Linked DNA regions of Homo sapiens: region 1 is linked to region 2. Evidence: fine-mapped expression QTL. A gene starts in region 2. The other region holds a variant in brackets. All regions are shown on one strand. Distances are between the middles of the regions.

The links.
Region 1: its variant is fine-mapped to the expression of BRD3 in whole blood (TOPMed, PIP above 0.99).

The regions. Positions count from the first base shown.
Region 1 is chr9:134,022,380-134,032,717 of GRCh38, reverse strand. It overlaps BRD3OS (BRD3 opposite strand), which reads right to left and starts at 7,237. Exons shown (of 3, transcript NM_001355256.2): 1 at 7,182-7,237; 2 at 6,628-6,873; 3 at 1,131-6,510. The coding sequence starts at 5,970. The coding sequence ends at 5,716. It overlaps BRD3 (bromodomain containing 3), which reads left to right. Exons shown (of 12, transcript NM_007371.4): 12 at 1-2,413. RefSeq lists silencers at 6,944-7,363, 7,674-7,803. The variant A/G (reference allele first, on the strand shown) is at 5,195.
Region 2 is chr9:134,062,922-134,073,259 of GRCh38, reverse strand. BRD3 (bromodomain containing 3) reads left to right here and starts at 5,234. Exons shown (of 12, transcript NM_007371.4): 1 at 5,234-5,315. RefSeq lists silencers at 4,629-5,358, 5,539-5,788 and an enhancer at 9,760-10,338.

The sequences.
Region 1 (10,338 bases), 41 kb after region 2:
TATGTGTATATAAATAGTTATTTATTAACATCATTGGTCATTTTTAAAAAAAAGAAAATAAGAAAAAACCGCAGAAGAAATGCATTCACACAGTCGCAGAGATGCAGGCCTTGCCAGTGGTGTGCCGGGCGCGGGTCCTGTCTGGCGGCGGCCTGTCGTCTCCAGGTGCTAACTCCTGCCACCGCGCGGTGCTCACCCACGTCTGTTCGCGCGCTCGCCCCTGGGTTTGTTGGGTTTTTTGGTTTTTTTCTTTGTGGTTTTTTTTTTTTTTTTTTTTTGTATGAAACTTGGAGGCTTACAGGTATAGACAGCTTTCAGCTACAGCACATTCTAATTTTTTATTTTGTTTAGTTCTTTTGTATTCACTTCTGGTCTCTTTAAGACTGTTTTAAAAGAAATCAATTTAGGGAACCCCAGTTATATAATATAAACTTTGTAATCTGAGAGAAAAAATGTATAGTAAATCTAAGTCTTGATTTTTAACTTTCTATTGTAAAAAATAATAATATACAGAGTTTAATAGAAGGTGATGTTTTGGTTTTGTTTTCCCAGAGGCTGCCATATGGTCTTTGAGTACGGGGATGTCCCAAACTGGCCCACCAATGAGCATGGCGGCTCCGGCCAGGAATGCCAGAGTTAGCCTCCCAGGCTTGCGGGTGGACATGCCTGCTCCCTGCCAGCCTCCAGTGGCCTGGCCAGGCCCTCCCGAGCCTGTCTGCCCTCCCCAGGGGTGGAGGAGTCTCTGGGCCCCAGGAGGATTCCCTCCCGGAGACTCGCACGGTGCTCCCTGCTCACGCGTTGTCACAGTTAGTCCGGAAATGACTGAAACCAGGCATTCTCCCGGACCTCAGCGTGGGGGAGCCTCCAGGCAGACGCTGGGTATGGAGCTGTGGTGTGGTCTGTCCTGTATGGTGGCCAGTGCTTTCTGCCAGCATTTCTGGATGGATATAGGGACTATCATTAGTATCCTAATACACGGTGATTTTAAAACAACCATAAAATTGATTCAGAGTCCACTGACCCTTACAGATGTAGGTATACCCTTACTGGAGAGGGAACTCTGATGAGGAGATGCTGGTAAATTATCATTTTTTAAATTGCTGGTGAGTCTGACACTTGGTGAGTTTTCAGCCAGTTTGTTAAACTTTTAATTAAGTTTTGTTTATAATAAAAATATAAATGGATTTGAAAGTTTCCATTTTTTAAAGTTACCCTCGTTTTCAAAGGTATTTTCTAAACAGATCTTTAATGGACTATTTAAACCGAATTTAAGGAATTCACACACGACAGTTGACAGGTCTTCACGCAGGCTGGTTGGTAACGTGCTGCCAGCACAGGGCTGGGTGATACGTACACCCTAAGCCGGGGGTGCCTGGGGCTGGGGGGCGCTCCTTGCAATGCCCCTCCAGCCACAGGGCAGTGAGGTGCTGCCTGTGTGAGCCGTCGGGGGAGCGGCCGGCTGTGGGGGCAGCGCAGCAGGAGCATCGTGGGGCCTTTCCTTCTCGGCTGGTTCTCTGTGACGGTGGCGTCGGCTCGCCTCTGCTCCTTTCATCTAGAAAGAAGCCACTGACCCTGACAGCCCACGGCGGGTACACTGAGCAGCTGCATTGGTGCTGTCACTTTTTTAAGGCTTTCTGTCCAGACTTCAACACTGGTTTCTTTTCAGAGTTTCGAAGGATTAATGACTTCCTCAGCGCCCTTGCTGGCGGGCTGAGGGTGACAGTCACGTCCGTTTCTTCTGTATTAGAAGGCTGCGGTGATTCAATTAGATTGTCCCACTGCTGAGACCTGTAGGGCAGCTTCTAACATGCTTTTTTCAAGGGGAGAGGAGTAGTGACAAGTCGTGTGTCGGAATTGGATTTGAGAACACTCTGAATGACCCCTGGAGGCCGAGGGGGCAGGCTTCGGGCGTGAACTGAACTCCAGACCCCTCTTTGTGTTGGGCAGTGTCATCTTGCTTACAAACTGTAAGACACATTTTTTTGTGTGTTTGTTTTTGTTGTTGTTCTTTTGCAGCACTCACGCCTCTGACAGTCTTTTGGGAAAGAGTAACACCCACATACAGAATTTGTCACATCCAGAGTAGCACTGTTCCTTAATACTGGCATAATGCTTCCAGGAAGTTTTTCTTTTTTATATTTAAAATGTTACTTTTCTGTATGATGTGCATGCAAGTTTACCGTAACTTTTCTTAAACTTTTTAGTGCCGTTTCTAGTATATTCCTGTAAATGTCAGTTACTGAAAATGAGTCCAATGTAAGTAGTTTAGCTTGTTTATTGCAATGCTGGCCTCAACACAACAGAATAAAAATGGTAGAAAGTACTCTTTGATGTTTCTGGTAATCATGGACCCTTCTCCTGGGGCATTTGTTTTGTTTTCATAATAAAAAGCAAAAAAAAAAAAAAAAAAAAAGACTGTTTTTTTTTTTTGCATTTTCCTGTGCTTTCTGTGGGGGCTCCCAGCCTCTCTCCTGGAGCCTGGAAATGTCTGGAAGCACCTGGTCTGGAACAGCCTTCACTGGTCCACAGCAAGGGTGCTGAGCTCCCCACACTTGACATCCTGTAACTCTTGGCAAAAACACCCAGAGCATCCAAAAGGGGCCCCAAAAAACCATTTAAAGGCAGGATGCAGTGGCTCGTGCCTGTGATCACAGCACTTTGGGAGGCTGAGGCAGGAGGATGGCCTGAGGCCAGGAGTTTGAGGCTGCAGTAAGCCATGATTGCATCACTGCACTCCAGCCTGGACAACATCTCTTAAAAAATAATAATAATCAAACCATTAAGTAGCTCTTGTCCTGAGCCCTGGCAGGATGAAGGGAGCATCATTTCTTGCCTCACTAGGAAGCCACAATCCCCTTTACTGACAGTTCATTGGTTCCCTGGAACAAGCTGCCCTCTTCGAGACAGCCAGGTTCTGTGCTCTTCTAGTCAACCTGGCCGCTTGTCCCCTCCCTCTGCACCTCAGTCTATCCTGAAGTGGCTTGTGATGCGCTCAGTCTAATGGAAATGCAAATAAAATCCCAAAAGCAGATTTTCATAGTGAGGTTTAACTGCCAGACTGGAGGCTGGCGTGCAGCGCGGCTCGCCGAAGAATGACAGCTCTGGAACTAGGCCTGGAAGAGACATGCCAGGGGAGAAGGTTCTGGCTGGGCCCACGTCTAGGCCTGAGGACCTGTCCAGCCCGACCCCAGATGGGGTCAGGGGGCACGGTGACACTCCTGGCCAGACTGTGACCCTTCTCATCCAGACCAGCCTCCTTGAGGACGGACATGGGGCCTTGTCCGCCCCAGGCAGATGGTGTCTTCCTGCAGCCTAAGCGGCTTAGTGCCAGCTCCTTGTGCGTGGCCCACACGCCCTGACCCCTGCAGAGACTGGCCCTTGAGCACACATCCTGCCAGCGTTGCAACGTGACCTCAGACCCCATTCTGCATGTCTGCGCTGCCTCCCATGCTTGGGGCCAACCCCGCCACAACCCGTCCTCAGGGGAGTCTGTGGTGCGGTGAGAAGGTGGCACACAGGCATTCCAGATTTGCCTCTGGAGTTTGCTTTCTTCCCAGGCAGGACTTAAACTGAAGAACTGAAAAGATGCAGACAAACCCTACCTAGCGGATGTGGAGTGCTTCCTTGGCGGGCCCGCCTTGCTGTGGGAGTGTCAGCCGGCGGGGCAGGTCCTCCAGCCCCATGCTCACTCCCTCTGCAGCTCCATGCGGCAATCCTGGAAGTCTGACTTCAAATCTCCCAGCTGCAGGCTGCAAACAAGCCAGGACTCTCGCAGAAGGGACTCGGGCTGTGCAGGAGGCTGCTGCCGACCAGGCCTCTGGCAGGACATTTGGGGAATGCACTTTGACCCAGCAGTTCCACTTCTAGGACGTTTGCGAATGAACTTGCACAGCTGCAAAGAGAAGCACGAACAGAGTACAGGCACATTCAGAACATGCTGTTTGCACAGATGACAACCTGGATGCTGTCACTGTGCCCGTCTGTGGGCTCACGGGAGAGCTGCGAGTCAGAGGTTAAAAGCATGAAGTGGGCCGGGTGCGGTGGCTCACGCCTGTAATCCCAGTACTTTGGGAGGCCGAGGTGGGCAGATCACCTGAGATTGGCAGTTCGAGACCAGCCTGGCCAACATGGTGAAACCTTGTCTCTATTAAAAATAGAAAAATTAGCCAGGCGTGGTGGCAGGCACCTGTAATTCCAGCTACTCAGGAGGCTGAGGCAGGAGAATCGCCTGAACCCAGGAGGCAGAGGTTGCAGTGAGCTGAGATTGTGCCATTGCACTCCAGCCTGGGCAACAGAGTGAGACTCTCTTAAAAAAAAAGAAAAGCATTAAGTGAATGCCCAGTCTGTACAGTTGAGCAAGAAAGAAAATGGCGGATACAAGAGGCATGGTGCAGGATGAGGCCGTCAGAATCACGTGACCGTGTGTGCATGCTGAGGAGCTGTGGGACGCATCCCCAGCTGCCGGCCGGGTTCTCCCCACGGAGAGCACTTGTGCTTTGCTTTATGCCTTTGTGTATTGCAGTCTTTAGCAATCAATTACATATTACTGCTATAAAAAATGGGAAGCCAAGTAGGATATTACGAACAAGGATAAAAATAAGTGTGAGGAAGGGGAGGAGTGTATTAAAGGATGTTTATTTAGAAAAGAAAAATTAGCTTTGACAAGAGACACCTGCACATTTGTGTAGCCAAGGAGATGTCAGTGAGAGCAGAAGGTGAATCCTTCATGGAGACTGAACACAGGTGGCCAGCTGTGGCAGCGACAGTGAACACATGTCAGTGTCGGCCTGGGGGCAGAGTGGTTGAATGCTTTAAGTCTGGTGGAGAGCCTGCCTTGCTCAGCCCTGTTACTACATGGAAGTCACTGTAGGCCACACATGTGCAACTTACAACTCTCGGGTTTCCTGAATGTGTTTTGGATGCACTGGCCAGTGGGCCGCAAATGCTTGGAAGCTACCATGATGCTTCACAGATGATGATCATTTTGGTAACTCAAAATATAAATGCGGGCTTGGTGCGGTGACCCATGCCTGTAATCCCAGCACTCTGGGAGGCTTGAGCCCAGGACTATAAGACCAGACCAGCCTGGGCAACATAGGGAAACCCTGTCTCTATATACAGTAGTTCGCCTGGAGCCACAGCTACCTGGGAGGCTGAGTTTGGGAGGATCACCTGAGCCCAGGAGATAGAGCCT[A/G]CAGTGAGCTGTGATTGTGCCACTGTATTCCAGCCTGGGTAACAGAGTGAGACCCCGTCTCAAAAAAGCAAAATACAAAATGTAATGCGACAAAGCTCCTGGTGAGATGCTGCTGCTACTCCGCCATTTATGCTAAAAACAAAAAACTAAAACCTAAAAAACTTGAAAAGGTGGTTTGTAATGGGGATGGGAGGGTTACTCTTGGCCTGGTTTAAACCAAGCATCTAGCAGTGCCCGGGCCTATGCTGTCCCTAGCAGCACCTGGAGAATTCAAATGTCACAACAGCTGACCACGGAGGGGACTCTAGAGGGGAAGTGTCCTGTGCACCAGTCACACCGCGGCTGTGCTGAGGGGTTCGGGGGCCAATTCTGCGCTTCTTGGGTTCTTACACCACAGTTTGATCTTCACGTTCATTATTCAAAATCTTCCAGCAAGGATTGGAAATCAACAAGACAACTGAATGAAACTCAGGTCTGTTTTCCTCAAAGTGTGGTCCTGGGTTCAGGTGCTCACATCGGAATTACATAATTGTGCAAAACTTGGACTGCCCTGTGTCCCTAGAGACCTCGAGCTTGTTTTTGTCTCGGACCAAGATGGCCTCATTTCCATACTGTGAGTACCACATGCTTCGGCTCCTGCTCAGGTACGTCCCAGGTGGCACCGACTCCAACTTCTGCTGTTGCTGCTGCCAGATGAGCAAGGAGGTGTCCCTGTACCGGAGGCGGGCGTAGCCTTCAGACAAGGCCTTCTCTGCCAGGGGGACACGGCCACTCATCCCCTCCCCCGTCCCGCTGGACTCCTGGGAACCCTGCTGTTCTGAGACGGCCCACGCGCACTAAATTAACGGACAGCTTTCCCAGCTTTGGGGCTTAAGGATCCCTCGTTTAACTGAATGGTAGAAATTAGGAATTCCGCCCATTTGCAGGCAACGTCCTCAGGAGGGTTGTGTGGTGAGGAAATGAGGCGGCCTCACCATTCTGAAGACACCTGAGACCCATTCAGGGGACCGCACACAGGTCAGAGCGGCGCCCGGCCACAGCTCTTCCGGGTGCAGCTGTGTGGAATTGACAGGGACGAGGCGTCACACCCTGGGGGGTGATTCTGCCACCATGGCCTGGACCACTGAGCTTGAAGAGATGGATCCAGTGCCCTGAGGAAGGGACATGGTGGCCCCAGACGCAAGCTGGAAGGAGCTCCGGTGGCACGCCCCGCACGCATCTGTCCGGGCCAGCTTTCAGGGCAACGGCTGTTCTGACCCACCCTGGGGATCCAGCCCCAGCGTTTGTTCAGGTCTCGTCTCTCCCCAAAGGTGCTGCTGCAAAGGAACGAACGTGCTGTCAGGAGAGGGGAAGTCAAGCGCCCCGGCAGCGGCGGCAGTCTGCAGCGCAGCATCAAGTCTCTGGGGGTCAGCGGCCTAGATCGAGCTACTTACGTCCCGTGGGGCAGCCTGGGAGCTGGGTGGAGAGTGAGACGGGCGCCCAGTGCCAGCTTTTTCAGTCACTGGGAGGTGCTGGGGAGGCTGCTTGTTGGGGCTTCAGGGTCTCCATCTGTGAAACAGGAGCCAGCGGCGCTTGAAAGGGCGCGGGTTCCCGGAGACGCCGCCAGGCGTCAGCCCCGGGACCGGAAGGGGCCCCCAGGGCCGCCTTGCTGCTCCGAGCATCCAGCTCCCGTGAGGCCCCTGGACCCAAACAAAAACGATGTCAGGAGAAAACAAACAGGGAAGCATCGCAACCCACTCCCGAACGCCTTCCCAGCTGCGCAGCGTCAGGGACCTCCCCTCCTGGGATGCCTGCGCTAGGTCAGCCTCAGCTTCCCGGGCCCCCATCGCGCGTCCCCGCCACCTGCGCGCACCCTGGGGTCCCCGTCGCGTGGCCCGCGGCCCCCATCCCCGCGCCCCAGACCCCGCGCGCTCTGGGTCGCCCCATCCTCCAGCCCCCTATCGTCTGCCCGCATCCCCGGGTCCCCCACGTCGCCCGCCCCAGTCACCGCTCGTCGCGGGCCTCGGAGATGCGGGCAGCGGCGCGACGCACTGCGGGGCTCCCAGGGCGGGGCCGGCGGCCGCTGGGCCGTGTCTCCATGGCAGCGCCGCAGGCCTGGCGAGCCGAGCGCAGAGGCTGGGCAGGCGTGTGCGACGAGCCCAAGCCATCGATCGCTCCGCGAGGAGGGGCTGGGCCCGCCCCGAATAGGAACTGGAAGAGGAGGAGGAGGGGCTGGAGGAGGAGGGGCTGGAGGAGGAGGGGCTGGAGGAGGAGGAGGGAGGAGGAGGAGGAGCTGGGAGAGGAGGGGCTGGGAGAGGAGAAAGGGCTGGATGAGGAGGAGGGGCTGGAGGAGGAGGAGGGGCTGGGAGAGGAGGAGCTGAACGAGAAGGAGGAGCAGAAGGAGGAGTGGAGGAGAAGGAGGAGCAGGAGGAGGAGCTGGGGGAGGAGGAGGAGCTGAGAGAGGAGGAGGAGATGGAGGAGGAGGGGCTGGATGGTGAGGGGCTGGGAAAGGAGGAGGGGCTGGGAGCGGAGGTGGGAGGAGGGGCTGGCAGAGGAGAAGGGGCTGAGGAGGTACTGGAAAAGAAAGAGGAGCAGGAGCTGGAGGAAGACGTGGAGGAGGAGCTGGAGGAGGATGAAGAGAAGGAGTGGGACGCCCACAACCCTGTTAGTAAGACACTGCCGGACTGTATGGTCTTATCATCTTGGTTTTCGTATTTCTGCTTGTGTGGTTACTTTTGCCACTGCTGTTACTGCTTTTATTAGTATTCTTACTCTCAGTAATTGATACAATTATTTTTAATTAATTAAATGTCCGGGCTTACTATCTCAAAAATAGGTCTTGAATTTCTCCATCTCATCCAACCAAGCCAGGCCTCTATACTGCTCATTTGGACTCCTCAACAGCCCCATGAAAGCAAGGTCTATTTCCTTTTCTCACTCCACCTCCAATCATACTCCAATAGCACTCTTTTAGTATCTACCCTTTTCCCCTAATTTTATGGTTTTCTCCAATGCCAATTAAGAAAACTAGCATAATGGAACCTGGTGTGGTGGCTCACCTCTGAGTCCCACCTACTTGGGAGGCTGAGGCAGGAGGATCCCTTGAGCCAGGAGTTCGAGGCTGCAGTGAGCCATAATCATGCCACTGCACTTCAGCTGGGACGAAACAGCAAAACCCCATCTCTAAAAAAAAAGAAAATAAGCATAACAGACATCCAAGGAAGATGCTTAGTGTGAGCACTAAGCCCACAGCTGTGGAACGCACATTCTTTTTTTTTTTTTTTTTGAAAGGGAATCTCACTCTGTCACCCAGGGTGGAGTGTGGTGGCACGATCTCAGCTCACTGCAACCTCCGCCCCCCAGGTTCAAGCGATTCTCCTGCCTCAGCCTCCTGAGTAGCTGGGACTACAGGCGCCGGCAACCACGCCCAGCTAATTTTTGTATTTTTAGTAGAGACAGGGTTTCACCATATTGGCCAGGCTGGTCTCGAACTCCTGACCTTGTGATCCGCCTGCCTCGCACTTTCTTCACAAGTACCTACACAGGACGTTTAGCAAAACTGATCACATGCTGGACCATAAATCAGTTTCAACAAATTTGAAAACGTTTAAATCTTACATGATCTCCCAGTCTTCCGACCTGGGAAAAGACAGCAACCGAAGTTATACTGCTTTCAAGAGACACAAGAACAGGCCTGTATTCAAAGACCCATTTAACACTTTTACCTCTATCTGGCTGGGTGCGGTTTTCACGCCTGTAATCCCAGCACTTTGGGAGGCCTAGGCGGTCACATCACTTGAGGTCAGGAGTTCGAGACCAGCCTAGCCAACATGATGAAACCCTGTCTCTACCAAAAATATAAAAAATTAGCCCAGTGTGGTGGCAGGCGCCTGTAATCCCAGCTACTCAGGAGGCTGAGGCAGGAGAATCTCTTGAACCCAGGAGGCGGAGGTTGCAGTGAGCTGAGATTGCACCATTGCACTCCAGCTTGGGTGACAGAGTGAGACCCCATCTCAAAAAAAAAAAAAAAAAATTGCCTCTAAGCTAATATAATTTGTTCTATGCCTTGAACTAAATAATTTGAATATTTAGTTACCTGTAAGCTTCCTTTTCCTGTCGTTGTCAAAACCAAATAGGACTTATATTTCTGTTCGAAACATTTACTTATGTTTTGTTTTCCAGAGTCAAAAAGCTGTTTTTCCTTTTAAGCTATTTTATAGCTACAACAATTAAGTAAAAAATGAAGATTACCTCTCTTTTTCTACCTGATATCTCCAGAATCTGAAAATGATTTAAAATCCCATTGGCTCCAATCTGATTTGATATCAAACACCCTCCCTCTAGGCCCAGGGACAATTGCAGAAGAGGTAAACGCATGAGATTGTAAGGGCTGGTTTCGAGGGATAAAATTTGTTCAGACCCTCTGAATCAAAGATGGTTCACAAATACCTAAATAGCTGATAGCTCAATACATAAAACTTAGAGATAAGTCAATTTTGTAACCTCACGTTTTGGATTTTGGTTTTTGCCTCTTATGTTGCACAAAAGGTTGTTTTTTGTTGTTGTTGTTGTTTGTTTTATTTTGATTTTTTTGAGATGGAATCTCGCTCTGTCGCCCAGACCGGAGTACAATGGTGCAATCTCAGCTCACTGCAACCTCCGCCTCCCAGGTTCAAGTGATTCTCCTGCCTCAGCCTCCCGAGTAGCTAGGGTTACAGGCATGTGCCACCATGCCTGGCTCATTTTGTATTTTTAGTGGAGACAGGGTTTCACTATGTTGATCAGGCTGGTCTCAAACTCCTGACCTCGTGATCCACCCGCCTCAGACTCCCAAAGTGCTAGGATTACAGGCATAAGCCACCGCACCTGGCTGCACAAAAGGTTTTTAAGGGTGAATGAGTGCCTGCCCATCTCCTTTCCTATCTGTCCTAAAACATTTAATTAGCTGTCTTTCAGTCTTTTGGCTCTAAGTCTCTTGGCCATAGGGATCCCACCAAGGGACAAGATGGACCCAGTGCAGGTAGCACACAGCCCCAGCAACGATATAGGACAAAATAAAAGTTTGGTCATCAATGCCATCTCTGGCAAATCTTGGCCAAAAGAAGGGAATATAAACTAAAAATAAAATCCTAAACTCCTCACTGACTGAACGGATCCCCTCTTGG
Region 2 (10,338 bases):
TCCCAAAGTGCTGGGATTACAGACATGACCCACCGTGCCCGGCCTGTTTTTTTGTTTTGTTTTGTTTTTTGTTTTCTGAGACGTAGTCTTGCTCTGTCACCCAGGTTGGAGTGCAGTGGCGTGATCTTAGCTCACTGCAACCTCCACCTCCTGGGTTCAAGCAATTCTCCTGACTCAGCCTCCCGAGTAACTGGGATTATAGGTGTGTACCACCATGTCTGGCTAAATTTTGTATTTTTAGTAGATATGGGGTTTCACCATGTTGGCTAGGCTGGTCTCGAATTCCTGACCTTGTGATCTGTCTGCCTCAGCCTCCCAAAGAGCTGGGATTACAGGCGTGAGCCACTGCGCCCAGCAGAGGTAAGTATTTATTGTACCCATCTTACAGATGTGAAGACTAAGACTCAGTGGGGGTCACCTGTTCTGTCCTTTTTTTTCAGACAGGGGTTTCACTCTGCCGCCCATGCGTTGGAGTGCAGTGGCACAAACACAGTTCCCTGCAGCCTCAACCTCCTTGGGCTCCAGCGACTCTCCTGCCTCAGCCTCCTGTGTAGCTGGGACCACAGGTGTGCACCACCACACCCAGCTACATTTTTGATTTTTCGTAGATACTGGCACTCACTTTGTTGCCCAGATTGGCCTCCAACTACTGGGCTCAAGCGATCCCCCACCTCAGCCTCCCAAACTGTGGGACTGCAGGTGTGAGCCCCTGAGCCCGGCCCACCTGTCTTCTTGTCCTGCCTGCCTCCTTTTGACTGTCTTTCTGCAAGCACATTTATGCAGCTGCAGCACAGCTCTCTCTCCCTGTTCACCGGGGCTCCTAGGTTATACCAGAGACCTTTCCACTCTATGCCTTTAAGGATTTTGCTATGATTTTTGTGCAAACAATTTTCCATGTTGGGGACAGGAAGAACAGGAAAGTGAGAAGACTCAACTCCAAGTTCCCTCCTTTCCATGGGGCTCCTCACCCTTTTCTTTTTATTTTTTTGAGACAGAGTTTCGCTCTTGTTGCCCAGGCTGGAGTGCAATGGCACGATCTTGGCTCACCGCAACCTCTGCCTCCCGGGTTCAAGCAAATCTCCTGCCTCAGCCTCCTGAGTAGCTGGGATTACAGACATGAGCCACCACGCCTGGCTAATTTTGTATTTTTAGTAAAGACAGGGTTTCTCCATGTTGGTCAGGCTGGTCTCGAACTCCCAACCTCAGGTGATCCGCCCACCTTGGCCTCCCAAAGTGCTGGGATTACAGGTATGGACCACGGTGCCCGGCCTCCCACCCTTTTCTAAGAGAAGTTTAATGAACTTAGATCTGGGCATTTGCTTCCTCAAGTTAAATGCCTCACCTTCCCCTACCAAGGTGCAGTCTTCTGGAATATATTTTGTAAATGAAATATGAACCCACATTTGGGTTCATGGCTCAGGCTAGTAATTTAACCTAACTTTGCCTCCATTTTCACCTGTAAAGTAGACATAATCATCCCTACGTCATAGAACTGTTCCAGGATTCAGTAAAATGGTGTACATAAGGCTCTTGACACAGGGCCTGGCACATAGTAGGCACTAAATTATTGTATAATTAAAAACCTCTGCTCCTCCACCCTCCAGAGTTCTCTGTAGCCCAGCCTCTGCTTGGTGGAGACAGAAATTCATTTTCTTAAAAAGTTGTGCTGAGAGCTGGTCAGTCCTGGGGAAAGACACATGATAATGAAACTTTCAAGAAACTGATGTATAAACTTCAGTGCCATGATGTAACTGCTCTGCGCCTTAAGGCAGGATTCCCAACCCCTGGGCCTTGGACTGTTACTGGTCCGTGGCCTGTTAGGAACGGGGCCACACAGCAGGAGGTGAGTACTTGTGAGCCAGCATTCCCGCCTGCGCTCCGGCTCCTGTCAGATCAGCAGCTGCATCAGATTCTCACAGGAGCGCAAACCGTACTCTGAACTGCGCACGTGAGGGATCTAGGTTGTGAGCTCCTTATGAGAATCTAATGCCTGATGATCTGAGGCGGAACAGTTTCATGCCAAAACCATTATCTGCCCCCACTCATCCGTGGAAAAATTGTCTTCCATGAAACTGGTCCCTGTTGCCAAAAAGGCTGGGGACTGCTGCCTTAAGGGGCATTGTGGGTGAAGGAGGAGGAGGCAGCTGAGGCCCTGGCTCCTGTACTGGCTGGAGCCTGGCTCTGGGTCCTCCTTTAGATGTGAGCAGGTGGCTGCTTCACTGGTAGAGCTTGGGCTACACTGAGGTTTGCAGATGGAGGCTGGAGGGCAGGACAGAGGTGCAGAAGAGAACATTTATTCATTCAACAACTATGTATTGAGCACCCACTAGGTGCCAGATACTGTTGAAGGATGTTTAGGGATACCTCATGGACAAAGTGCTCTGCTCTCATGGAGCCGTGAGACAGCCCACAAGGAGGCTCAGGAAGTAAAACGTGAAGGTAGAGAGGTGAGTGATGGCCAAGGAGGCAAAGGCAGCAGCCTGCTCCTGATCACAGCCCCAACCTTTGCACATGCCCCCCTCCCTTACCAGAGCTGCGGGATCAGGTTCTATTTTTATCCTCCTGTGACAGGGGAGGAAACCTGGGTCGGGGAGATTAAGTGGCTTCACTTGGGAAATTCAGCAGTACCAGAGGTTAAAATTCCAAGAGCCTGAGCAGGAAGGGAGAGGATGATGGGCTGCTAGGGGCTGGAGGGGACTGCAGAGCCACCCCAAATCCCTTCTCAATGGCAGCCCTGCTGGCTTTCAGCTGTTTGCCACTGTGGCCCCTAAACTAGTCTTCAGAGATAGTAGCACAGGGGCTGAGATGCTCAAATGAGAGTTTCTGTCCTGTTCCCTTACAGATTCTGCTTCCTAGAGACTTCTCCAGCCTCGGGAAAGTTGGCTCCATGGAGCCATCCGGGCCACTCATGTGTGGGTGAGCAGCGGGAAGGGAAAGAAGGGGACCTTGGTGCTTCCATCAGAGCCAGTGCCCAGGGAGCGCCTGGGTTCCTGCCATACTCCTGGGGGTCACCTTAGGGCAGTGGGAGGCCCATAAGGGTTGGGGGCATTTGGTCAGCAGCCTCAGACACGCTGGCTGGTCAGGGCAGCCTGCTGTGTGCATGTACCTGGGTTCCTTGAGGTCAAGACCAGGCGGAAAGGCTTTTTGTTCTAGCCTTGGGAGGAGTGCAGTGGGGTCTGTGTAAGTGGTGAGGTGGCCATCCTGGTGGTCAGAGTGCTCAAGATACCCAAGGAGATGAGATGCAGACAGCAGGAATGGGTTGCAGCCTCCAAGGTGGCTAACACAGAAGCCTGTAGGTTGAGGAACTGCACCGGGGGTTTGGGGACACAACCAGGATGGTAGTTCTAAGGGAACTGCCTGCAGATCCTCACCTCTCATATTCCCCCTCCCCGACCTTCCTGCGCCTGAGGACTGCACTTTGTCCATTTTGCCAACTAGAAAGGCAAGGCTGGAACCTCGTCCTAGAGCCTTGCCCTGGAGTGTGAGAAGGTCCTGGGCTCCCAGCAGAAACAGAGGGACAGGATTGGGAAAGGTGTTGGCTTCCCCTGCAAACTCTTCCTAAGACCCCGGGGCTTTGGGTCTCAGCCGTCCTGCAAATTGGCTCTGTGACCTTGGGCAGGACCCTTTGCCTCACTGAGCCTGTTTCCTTACCTGTCAGCCTGGAACAGAACACCTGCCTTCTGGGTGAGCATGGGGATGAATTGTCTCTGTGCTGGCACTCACTTTGTGAATATTGCATAGATGTGTGCATTTCAGGCAGTGGAGCTGCTGCTCAACTTGGAACACACCTGGGGACCCCAGGGGCTTGGGGTGGGTGCAGCCCACACAAGGAAACTCGACCTTGCAGTTGGCAGGTTCAGCAGGCACCAAGGAACCTCGTTTTGTTTTTGACGTTTTTATTGGGGTCTAATGTACACAACGTGTAACCACCTTAAGTTACAGCTGGATTAAAATTGATTTATGTGGCCGGGTGCGTTGGCTCACGCTTGTAATCCCAGCACTTTGGGAGTCCGCGGTGGGCGGATCATCTCACGTCAGGAGTTTGAGAACAGCCCAGTCAACACGGTGAAACCCCATCTCTACTAAAAAATACAAAAATTAGCCGGGCGTGGTGGCGGGTGCCTGTAATCTCAGCTACTCGGGAGGCTGAGCCAGGAGAATGGCTTGAACCCGGGAGGCGGACGTTGCAGTGAGCCGAGATCGAGCCACTCACTACACTACAGCACTCCAGCCTGGGTGACAAGAGCGAAACTAACGTCTCAAAAAAAAAAAAAAAAAACAAAAACCAAAAAAACAACAAAACCCCCCCCCCCACAACTTGATTTATGTGTAAACCCGAGTCGTCATCACCCAAAACAAGATGCAAAACGTGTCCACGGGCTGAACCTTTCAAGATACAGAAAAAGGGCCAGGGGTGGCCCTCTCCCGGAATCTCAGGCTGGGAACCTGGTATCTAGTTCCCGCCCCTCACTGGGCAGATGGGGAAACCGGGGCTTGGGGCGAGAAGGTCCCCAGGCAGAGCTGGGAGCACCCCTAACTCTTCGCCAGCTCTGGGGACTTGGCGCCCTCTCCAGCAACAGCGAACTTGGGCGCCCGCGCCCCAGCAAGTCGGGTGGGGGAGATGGTGACACGGAGGGCGCGGCAGAGCGCGGCTCCTCCCCGGGCGGGGCCGACCTGCCCGCGCGCACCGACGCCCCGCCCCCCGCCCCGCGCGCGCGCTCCCGCCAGGCTAATTAGGCGCGCGGTTTGTTTACAAACACGGGCTCCCGGCAGGTGCGCGCCGCCCCGCCCGTGCGCGGCCGGGGTTCGAGGGTGGCTCCCGCGGGCCTCGGGGTGCCCGGACGGGGGCTGCGGTGCTGGCTGCGTGCCCGCTTCTTCCATGCCGTCCTGGGGCACCGGAAAATCCGCCGCCAGGCGCTGTCCCCGACACGGGGTGAGGAGAGCCGTGCGGGCCCGGGCGGGGAACGGCCCACGGGGTCCCAGCGTTGTTGCCCTGCCGGGCGGGCGCCGAGCCCCGCCCCCGCGCGCCCCCCGGGCCAGGCCCGCTCTCGGCCGGGTCGGCGGGGCGGGCGGGGGCCCCCGGGGCGGGGCGCGGCGCCGGCGGGGCCGGGACATGTAGTCCGCGCGCCCGCGGCCTCCCCTGGGCGGCCCCGGCGCGGGCCCGGCCGCGGACTACGACTCCCGCCAGGCGCCGCGGCGCAGCGCATGAGCCCTGCTCGGCTCCGGCGCGTCTATTATGCTGCCGGGGCCGGCGAGCCAAAGAGGAGCCGGCCGCGCGGGCCGGGAGGGGACGGCCGCCGGAGCCGCGAGGCCAAGTACGCCTTTCTCTTGCTTCCTTGCGCGCGCGGGGCGGCGGGCGGCGCGGGCGGCGGCGGGCCGGGCTGGGCCGGGGAGCGCGGCCCCGAGCGCCCCGCGCAGTCCGCCGGCGCGTCCGGGTGAACCGGGCGCCCGGGGCCGCCGCCGCCGCCGCCGCCTTTGTGCGCGGCCACGATGCAACAAAGCGCGGCGGCCGCCCGGGGTCGCGGCGGCGGTGGCGGCGGCGGTGGCGCGGGCTCCGCTCCCCTCCTCCCGCTCCCGCTTGGCCGCCTCCGTCCCGGACTCGGGGCGTCGCTGCGGCCGGGGCGCGCAGCCCGGAGTTGGCGCGGCCCGCGCGCCCCGCGCCAGCCCGGCCTCCGCGCGCCCTCCCTCACGGAAGGGATTTTTTTCCCCCTTTCCTCCGCCCGCCATCTTTCGAAGGGGGAACCCAGGGAGGACGCGGAGGGGGAAGGTGCGCGCGGCGGCCCCGGCCTGCGGCCGTGCGCTCCGCGGGGCCACTTTCCCCGCGCCTGTTCCGCCGGCCTCGCTCCCGAGCCGTTGCTGGGGCCCGCGCCTGGGGACCGTCGCCGCGCGCCGCGGCCGGGGCGGGGGGCAAGGCCGGGCTCGGCCCTGGGCTCTGCGCGGCCTCCTCCCAGAGTTACGGGCCCAGAGCTGACTTTGAGCCCCCCTGAGTTGCCGGATTATTGCACCCAAACCAGGGGGAGACCCAGTTCCCGTTTTGAAATCAGCCTGAAAATCGCTTAATCCGGGCGAGGGCGAGTTGGAGCGGGAGGGACGGGGGTGCTTCCCCTCCTTCCCACTTTTGGGGGGCGCCGGAGTGACAACGTGATACAAGCCCATCCGGGGAGAAATGCGCACCCCGAACCGTGTACACCCACATGGCCCTGGTGGGCTCTCTGTGAATAAAGCTGGGGCGTGCGGGAAGTCTTATTCCACCGGTTGCTCGTTCGGGGGCAGGGCCGGGATGGGGGCTTCGCGCGGCCTCCTTTCCCTGGAGGGCGAGAACTCGGCCCGCCGAGACCCACCGGGGGCAGGGACCCGGCGTCCATCGTGTGGGTTCCTCCGTTCGACCCAATCCTTGAGTGGTTGCGATCTTTAATTTTGGTTGAAAGCTTTCTGCTCAGAAATAGATACTGGGATTTCTCCCCCTTACATTAAACTTGGTCATTGTCTGCAAAAGTTAACCAGGAGGGGAGACTGTAGTGCATTGGTGGGCAGAGTAATTGGGCTGGAACTGCAAGAGGCAGCTTCGTGTGTCCCGTCCTCCCCCGCCCTACCCTGTGAGAAGGAACAGAAGAGGAAAAGAGTTTTCTTTTTACCCTGCTCTTTTGTAGGCTTTTCCCCTTACTCTTTTCTTTAAAATGGAGGGTTTTTTTTTTTTCCTGGGTCCATGTAGTATGCCTGGGGAGATCCTGGAATCTATGCAAAGTTGTATGGCATTTTTCTGGGGAAAGTAGTTTGTTACTGGCTTCCAACGGGGTCTAAGGAAGGTCTGAACCCCTGCAAGGGGCTGGCCTCGGGGGTTAGGGAGCCCTCCCTCCGGGTTCTTCCCTGGCAGCCCTGATGCAGCCTCTCATTTGCAAATAAAGGTCTGTGTTTGCCGTTTTCTCTGTTGAGGCCTTGATGGGTGCTGGTGGTTACTGATCATGAAAGATAAGGCACACGCTGTAACAGGACGGGCTGCAGGCGAGCGAGGGGCATTTCTTTCTGACCTTCCGGGTAGCCTCAGAGGCCCGGTGCCTCAGCAGGGCACCGGGTGCCTGGAAAGACTGTGGGAGCAGCTCCAGCCTGAGCCCTGCCGTTGGGACATCCGGGGAGGAGGGATTTCAAAAGCTTTCTCCGAGTGGGCAGTCACTCCATTTTTATTTTTGTTTTGTTTTTAGAAAGTAGAGTAATTACTTTCCTTTGACAACAGCTCGCGCCTGCTTCGGAAGTGAGTGAGCTTTGAATGAAGGACGGGACTTGCAAACAGTGCCTGCCCTACACTCCGAAGTAGTCATACCCAGAAAGTGAAAGTGGGGGTGTGCAGAGCGAAGCAGCCAGGCCTGCTGCAGCCGGTGCTACCTTCCTCTACCCTCTTCCTCCAGGCTCTGGAGATGCCAGCCGCGGGAGCCCTGTGCACCAGGCGGCAGTGATGGCCTTGTGCGATTCCTGGTGCCACCAGGAAGTGCCACCACTTTCCCTGAGGCATGGTGGCTCAGGGTTTCCCAAGTGGGGTGATTGGCACAAAACCAACAGCTATGCCCAGTTGTCGATGGGAAGAGCCATGTTTTGCTGTGGATACACACGGTACCGGGGCGGGGTATGGGGAACCGGGGCCTACTCTTCCCAGCGTTGCTGCCTGGGAGGTGGGGGCATGCCTGAAGTCGTGCTGCGGGTCTCTTGGTTTTCAAAGCAGTTAACGCAGTTGGTCAGAGGATCCTCCTCTTGCTTCCTTGACCGGTCATCAAAGTATAACTGACCTGACGGGGTTCCTGTCCTAGGCAGGTTCCTTTTTTTTTTTTTTTCTCTTCTCCTCTTGAGATGGAGTCTCGCATTGTTGCCCAGGCTGGAGTGCAGTGGCACGATCTCAGCCCACTGTAACCTCTACCTCCCGGGTTCTAGCAATTCTCCTGCTTCAGCCTCCCAAGTAGCTGGGATTACAGGCGTCCGCCACCACGCCCAGCTAATTTTTTGTATTTTTAGTAGAGACAGGGTTTCACTGTGTTGGACAGGCTGGTCTCGAACTCCTCACCTCGTGATCCACCTGCCTTGGCCTCCCAAAGTGCTGGGATTACAGGCATGAGCCACCGTGCCTAGCCAGCAGGTCCCTTATATCACGAAGCCAGTATCTGGTTGAAGCTAGAAGGTAACTGGATGAATCATGGTAGAATGCAAGGCTTCTTGCCGTAAAAGGTTTTGGAACTTGCGGGTCTGCCTTGGGCCTTCCCGACCCCTGTGGCTCCGCCCCCTTGTTGGAGCAGAAGAGATGCACAGGTAGCAAAGCATGATGGGGTGCCAGGTGCATTTGGGTCAGCGTTTGCCAAGAATGGCCTTGCTCCTGTGTTTTTGTTGGTACTGCCACCTTGTAGAGGTGCCCAGCTGGTGGCGGAGCATAGGGTTTTCTTTGCCTATTCTCCTTCCTGTGAAATCATGGGCACAGACATCATGGGCCCCTGTGCCCGGGCCTCCCTGCTCTGGTTCCTGGGCTCCTGCCATCTGAGAGGCTTGAGGGCTTGCTTATTTGTTTGTTTGTTTGTATTTTTAGTAGAGATGGCGTTTCACCATGTTGGCCAGGCTGGTCTCAAACTCTTGGCCGTGAGTGACCCACCCGTCTCTGCCTCCTGAAGTGCTGGGATTACAAGCGTGAGCCACCATGCTCGGCCAAGATGCTTGAGAGCTCATTTATTTATTTACTTATTTTGAGACAGAGTATCACTCTGTTGCCCAGGCTGGTGTGTAATGGCATGATTTCCCTTCACTGCAACCTCCACCTCCTGGGTTCAAGCAATTCTCCCTGGCTCAGCCTGCCAAGTAGCTGGGATTACAGGTGCCCGCCACCACGCCTGGCTATTTTTTTTAATTTTTTTTAATTTTTTAGTAAAGATGGGGTTTCGCCATGTTGGCCGGGCTGGTCTTGAACTCCTGACCTCAGGTGATCCACCCATCTCAGCCTCCCAAAGTGCTGAGATTACAGGTGTGAGCCACCATGCCTGACCGAGAGCTCTTTTAAAGAGAAAGTGTCACTTTGGGCCATTCACCTGTTGGTGGTTTAAATTGTAAGTCTTCTGGCCACTCCTGATTGAGCTCGCAGTGGAGCCAGGACCTGTGCGTGTGGCTGGAGGCTCGGACCCTGTTGTGTCCGTGCTGTTGGCTGTCTGCGTCTCGCACCAGTCTGTGGCTGTTCCCTGAGAGTCAGTTCGCAGGCTGCCTCCTCACAGGGCCTTCGGAGCCTGGTGTTGGGAAGATGGGGCGTGGAACATGCCCCCGCCCCCCTCCTTGCCGCAGGCCCCCAAGGTACTGAGTTCGTCAGAAGTTAATCCGGTATTGTGGGAGACAACTTTTCCAGCCACTTGGAAAAGTGTCCCGCTGAGGGTGCAGTGATGTTCAGGAGTCGCCGGCTGGATCTTTCTGAGTGTGGCTTGATAACCAGCTGCAGCATTTTGCAAAGCACCCAGTGGACTCGGGTGTGATCTGCAGAGGCGGCTGCTGGCCAGGCCTGGAGTCTGGGGCAGAGGGAGTGCCCTCAGTGCACCTGTGAGGACCTGGGACTAAGAGTCGGTACCTGGGAGCTGTGGGACTCTGGGGCGGGACGGCCTTAGCCTCCGTGTGAGCACTGACCGAGATGAGGCACAGATGCATCTGTGTGAGGTGCCCGGCCCCTGCAGGAGTGCTGAGTATTGTAGCTATAACCTGTCATGTGGCAGAAGGAAGAATCTACTATAAGCGGCTGAGAGGATGCCCTCCCTGTGCCATGCGTCACTGGAGCCTTGGCCTGACAATCCCACAAGGAGCAAAATGTGCAAAGGGGCAGCTGTGTGAGCCTGCGGGTCCAGGGTGCCACCCGCCCCCATCTGCCCACACCACAGGACAGAGCCCTGGGTATGCTGACCAGGCCCTCGCTGGTACCAGGGGCTGGGTAGGAGGCAAGGGTCAAGCACGGTGGCTCCGTGGGCTGTGGACTCACAGACAGATGTGCTGCATGCCCACGCTTTGCTCTTAGCTCTGCCTCCGGTCTGTCCCGGCAACAGGCCTGGGGGCGTCCTGCAGTCCTCGGCATTTGTGGTTGGGGGTGAGCAGAGAACATAGACGAAATAACCAAGGGGATGGTCTGAGAGCTGCGGCCCTGCTGGCCCCTTGTCCTGGCTCGGCATGGCTGAGTGGGACAGCAGTGAGGCCAGGCCTGTCTCCTGGGGCCGGGGTGTTTTGTGAGTTTGGTTCTTGTCAGGCCGGCTGAGAGGAGATGGAGCAGACAGATGGATGCTAGGTGGGCCTGCCGCAGCTTTGTTTTAGGAAGTGCGGAGCACCAGGGCCTGACCCTGA